Linked DNA regions of Homo sapiens: region 2 is linked to region 1. A link means that fine-mapping ties the variant in region 1 to the expression of a gene that starts in the linked region. Tissue or cell type: whole blood. Region 1 holds a variant in brackets; the other region holds the start of a gene. All regions are shown on one strand. Distances are between the middles of the regions. Region 1 has its middle 26 kb from the start of CHKA-DT. Region 2 holds the start of NDUFS8 (NADH:ubiquinone oxidoreductase core subunit S8).

Region 1 (2,794 bases):
GGCAGCAGCAGGTTGAAGCCAGACGCTGCTCAGACCTCACACCACGTCGTTTGCCCAACCCAGAGAAAGCTCTGTCCCCGGCTTCTGGCTCCTTCTCTGCCAGGACTCACTGGGTGTGATGAGTTGGTCTTGGGGCACTGTCTGGGCACAGCCTGTTTGCCCAACATGGCCTCCTGGGCTCCATGCTTCCGCAGGTGGGAGGGGTCTGGACTGGCCCAGGGGCTCTGACAGCGGCTGGCAACCTGAGGTTTTGACTTCAGGGTGACCTGAATCCTGCCGCATTATGGAGGCTGGAGTCTCTGGGGGCTGCTTTCCCAGAGAAGAAGCTCCTTCCCCATCAGCCTGACATTGGCTCCAAGGACTCCATGTGGCTGGAGGGCTCAGGGCTAAGGGGAGGGAAGCCCCGGGATGGCAGTGAGGGGTGAGGGAAGATTTGGGAGGTGACATCTACAAAGAGACCTGAGCGGGTGGGGCAAAGAGGGGGTCCCAGGCAGAGGGAGAAGCAAGTGCAAAGACCTTCATAACCCAGGGGAGCGCTGAGACCACCGACCAGCAGCACCCCCACTTCTTCAAGCCACCACTCCTCAGGGCCTCCCAGGGGTCCCCAGCCTGGAGCACCCCATGTGGTAGAGCTGGTAGGCTGGGGGACACTGGGGACTGCTGTCCCACTTGGAGCCTCGGGCTACTCCGCCCAGGAGCAGCGATGTGGAACCTTGTTGGATTTTCATGTTCCCAAACATCCAGGAGACACACAGTTGTGAGTTTCCAGCCAGGCGATCTCTAAGGCCAGAGCAGCCCTTGTGGGTGTCAGTGAGGAAGGGCAGAAAGACTCTGGCCTCAAGCTCAGCTCCCTGCTGCAGGGAGTTGAACGCCCCTTTGGTGAGTGGCTCTAGCTAAACAAACACGTGTTATCATCTGTCAATAGCGGCCACCTCCTTGCTGGCTGGGCTGCTGCTGGCTCAAAGCCCAGAGCAGCCCTTCCGGGGCACTGCCTGCCACAGCCAACAGTCAGGGAAGGGCAGCTACTGCCCTGGGTTCAAGCCCGGGCTACCCCTGCTCCTGCTCACTGTGTGTCCCCAAGCAAGTCACTGTCCCTGCCTCTCTGTACAGTGGGAGGCCTGGATCTCTCTGCTCTGGGAAGACACCCAGCCCTGGAATGGTTGGGCCACACTTGGGGCTGGGGGCCAGGAGGAAGTTGGAGGGCTGGGCTGGGGCTGGGGCTGATTAGTTGAAGCCAGTAGAAAAGTACAGGCTTTGCTATTAGATTCCAGGAAATAACAAAAGCTGCTAACAGTTACCGAATGCTTACCACGCACCCGACGTGGTGCTCACGCATCTTTTGCTGTTTTATTTCATCCTTAGTGAGTTGGGTACTATTATCATCTCCATTTTACAGAGCAGAAACTAAGGCTCAGATAGGAGACGCTGCAAAATCAGGAGGTGGTGAAGACAGAATGTGCCCCTAGGGTGCTGATCAGGGCCCTCACCTAGAGGCAGATGCCCCCATCTCCTAAGGTCAATGGTCCTCAGCTATCATCCCTTTTTTTTGTTTTTTGAGGTGGAGTCTCGCTTTGTCGCCCAGGCTGGAGTACACGATCTGGGCTCACTGTAAGCTCCGCCTGCCGGGTTCACACCATTCTCTTGCCTCAGCCTCCTGAGGAGCTGGGACTACAGGCGGCCGCCACCACGCCTGGCAAATTTTTTGTATTTTTAGTAGAGACAGGGTTTCACCATGTTAG[C/A]CAGGATGGTCTCGATCTCCTACCCGCCTCAGCCTCCCAAAGTGCTGGGATTATAGGCATGAGCCACCACGTCCGGCCAGCTATCATCCCCTTTTAAACTTTCTGGACTGGCCACGCTGAACTTCTCACCCTCCTTTCCATAAGACACCCTGTCCTTCCATGTCTCCAGGACTTTGCAGGTGTCCACCGCCTCTGCCCTTTGGGCTTATGAACTCCTATTCATCTCTCAGGACCCTTCTTAATTTTACCTCCTCCATGAAGCCTGCTTTGCTTGGTTCCCCAGCAGAAACAGGGGGCACTCTCCTTGGTCCTCCTGCCACGCTTCTTCCACACATGCATCCTGGCAATTACCACATTTTACTGATGTTCGTGTGTGTTTCCCTGGAGGGAAAGGAGTGGGTTTCAATCACCCCCATATCCCCTGTGCCTTTTGAGTGACCAGCCGTTATTCGGCACTCAAATAGGGAAGGCTGTCAGGGGAGCAGCTGACTGCAGAGAGACTGCCTTGGAAGGAGGAGAGGCCCGGGGGTGGAGCGGAGGTTTCGGGTAAACAGAGGCGGCCTGACTGACAGAGGGGCATCAGCCAGGGGAAAATAGAACCGGGATCCAGGATCGTCTGAGTACGCAGCTGAGCTGGAGAAGGTTGTAATGAAGGCAGTTTGAGCAGGTGTCAGCTGAGGAGGGCAGAGGTTAGGGGCAGAGCAGGGCGCATGAGGTGTCTGGGGTGCACCCACAGACTGTTGAGGCAGGACACGGGTACCAACTGACTTGGGTGCCAGACCCATGTGAAGGGCACGATGGGCACTCTCCTGCTGAATCCTCAACAAACCCAGAGCGCTTTCACTCCCTCTGCTTTACAAGTTACAAATCTGAGGTTTGGGAACAAGTGAGGCAGGGCAGGTGCCCCCCAACCTTGCCCCAGGCCAAGTGGGTGCCTGAGTCAACTCTGGTCCACTTGGATGACAGTCATGTGCCACCACACCTAGCTCAGCCTCCCCAGCTTGCCGCTTACCGCAGAAGAAAAACATGGTTTGACTAGCAAGAGGAGGAAATTA
Region 2 (2,794 bases), 120 kb before region 1:
CCACGCAGGAATCACCTGATGAAGGGCCAGGGTCAGGTGTGGGCCACCATCCCAAGACCTCCCTTCTCTCTAGGGCCAGCCCCTCTCCTCTGAGCACCTGCTGACCAGCCCAAAGCCCTCTCCACTCCTCAGCTTGAACTCCCCCAGGGTCTCCCTGTGGCCCACAGGTCCTTTGGAGGCTCGGGCATCTGCATGCAAATCCCAAACCACTGTCCCCTTTGCACACACTGAGCCTGCCCTTGTCCTCGTCCTGGTCTACCATGCGTGTCCTCCCTCTGCACGGGCATGGGACATGCCCTCTGCCTCCTTCCTGTCCTGGCCTGCCCAACTCCTACCTACCCTCAGCGCAGATCCTCCCAACACACACATGCAGGCAGCCTCGGGGCCTCTGCGGGTCCCTCTACCACAGCATTCCCGGGGAAAGGCCCGGCGTGGTGGCTCACGCCTGTAATCCCAGCACTTTGGCAGGCCGAGGCAGGAGGATCGCCTGAGTCCAGGAGTTCCAGACCAGCCTGGGCAACATGGCGAGACCCCGTCTCTACAAAAAATACAAAAATTAGCCGAGCCTGGTGGTGGCAGGCGACTGTGGTTCCAGCTGCTCGGGAGGCTGAGAAGTGAGGATCACCCGAGCCTGGGAGGTCGAGGCTGCAGTGAGCCGAGATCGCACCACTGCATTCCAGCCTGAGCCACAGAGCCAGATTGTCTCAAAAAAAGAAAAAAAAAAAAAAAAAAAAAAAAATTCGCTGGTAGGAAACATAGGCTGGTTGAGTACGGGAGTCATACAGATCAGGTGGATCAGGCGGCCGCACACCGCAGCTCTACGGCCCGGGAACGTTACTAAATACTCCCATGCCTCAGCTTCCCGCCTTAACGTGGTAACACGTTACTGTAGTTTCTCCACGCAGAGCTGCTGTGAGGATTAAAAGAGGCCGCGTGAGTTGAGCATCTCGTCGCCATTACCGTCATCACACGCCCCCCACCCAACCCGGCGGGCCCACCCTCTGCACCCACGGCGAAAGCACTCTTTCTAAACCACGCCCCGGATGTCCCGCCTCCAGCGGCTCGGAGGTCTTCACTTATTGGCCTCCCCAAACCAACATGGCGGCCCCCTACAAACTTCAAGCGCCGGTCTCTCCTAGCCAATCAAAAGAAAGATATTTCTGAATCCCGCCTCTTTCAGCAGCCTTGCTGGCCAATCAGACCACACCATGAAGCATCAATACAGAAAAGGGGGAACCCGCTGGCCCAATGGCAGCGTCCTACAGTGTAGCCTCCGCCTCCCGATTGACTGGCCTGCTTGGCAAGGCAAGTAGCGGCGGCGCTTCAAGGTGGGTGTTCACGTTTTGGCCGTGAAAGTCGGGCTTGGGCAGCGTGGCGTCGGGGGCGAGTGTGGTGTCCCCGTTGGCGCCGCCAGCTCTGCGCCTGGGCTTCCCCTCGGCTCACTCAGGATCCGCGGCCTCCGTGTCCTTCAGGTGCAGCGGGGAGCCGGCTCTCAGGGCGCATGCGCCGCCCGCTCTGCGCCACCGGCCTAGTTAGGGTCGGAGATCACTGGGAAGGTGGGGAAGGTGCTGGGTTGGGTCCCTGGAACTGCAGTCAGTGATCCAAAGGAGTGGGCCTGTTAGGGGGTTCACAGGTCGTGGGATGAGCTCTTATGAGCGCCGGCTAAGTGCCGGGCTCTGGGGTGCCCTTGGCATGTACGGGCTCCCCTAATTCCCAAGACCAACCGCCCCCAACCCACTTCATAGGTGAGAAGACGGAGGTCAGGTCACATCATCTGCCCAAGGTCACGCGGCAGGCTGGGGGACAGTTCCAGGAGGGCCTTGAAGCTGGGGAAAGGAATGTGGTACCGAGGACTGTTCAGGCCTTGAAGAGTTTCCAGCAGGGCAGGGCTGGGTTCCGATCCTCGGCCCACCTCCTTATCGTGTGACTTCCGACAAGTCACTTTTTTATCTTTTTTTTGAGACAAGGTCTCACTCTGTCGCCCAGGTTGGAGGGCAGTGGTGCAGTCTGGGCTCACTGCAACTTCTGCCTCCTGGGTTCAAGCGATTCTCCTACCTCAACCTCCCGAGTAGCTGGGATTATAAGTGCCCACCACCACACCTGGCTAATTTCTGTATTTTTTGGTAGGGACGGGGTTCCACCATGTTAGCCAGGCTGGTCTCAAACTCCTGACCTCAGGTGATCCACCTGCCTCAGCCTCCCAAAGTGCTGGGATTACAGGCGTGAGCCACCACACCCAGCCCTAGCGAGTCACTCAACAAACTGAGTCCCAGCGCCTTATTTGTGCCTCCCTCGTGGAGTCCTTGTAAGGATAGGATGGCAGCGCTTTCCACCCCTGGGCACGGTTCCTGGGGGAGGAGAGCTAACAAAGTTCGCTCTCAGTGCATGCTGGCGGGGGCTGGTAATGTTGTTTTTGGTTAGATTTGGGGAGGATGAAGGGAGGAGCAGAAAGGTGGGAAACAGGATCTCTGGGAGGGAGAAAGGAAGGATGGATTTAAAAGGTTTCTTAGGTGAGGCAGAACTTGGGGTCCACAGAAACTGAATTGTAGCTCAGCCAAGCTGAATCAGATGGAAAGCTGGGAGGCGCTGGGAACAGGAAAGCCATCTGTGCCTCTGACAGCAATGGGGTGCGAGTAGAGGGCAAAGTGACACATGTCAGTGGAGACTTGGGATCCTTGCGGTGCCAGTCTCAGAAGAGGATGGTTCTTGGGCACACCCCACCCTCCATCCCTTTTTATGCCACCAGATGCGCTGCCTGACCACGCCTATGCTGCTGCGGGCCCTGGCCCAGGCT

The links. PIP is the estimated chance that this variant, and not a neighbour inherited with it, causes the effect. A credible set is the group of variants that fine-mapping cannot tell apart.
Region 2: it holds the start of NDUFS8, and the variant in region 1 is the best candidate, but not a certain one, in a credible set for the expression of NDUFS8 in whole blood (INTERVAL, PIP 0.67).

What each region holds. Positions count from the first base shown.
Region 1 is chr11:68,146,308-68,149,101 of GRCh38, forward strand. No RefSeq gene overlaps it. Among named protein-coding and RNA genes, the nearest start is that of CHKA-DT, 26 kb to the left of the region's middle. The variant C/A (reference allele first, on the strand shown) is at 1,740.
Region 2 is chr11:68,029,406-68,032,199 of GRCh38, forward strand. NDUFS8 (NADH:ubiquinone oxidoreductase core subunit S8) reads left to right here and starts at 1,276. Exons shown (of 7, transcript NM_002496.4): 1 at 1,276-1,328; 2 at 2,747-2,794. The coding sequence starts at 2,747. It overlaps GLTC1 (glycolysis associated regulator of LDHA post-transcriptional modification 1), which reads right to left and starts at 1,029. Exons shown (of 4, transcript NR_197583.1): 1 at 888-1,029; 2 at 1-15. RefSeq lists enhancers at 1,017-1,311, 1,303-1,482.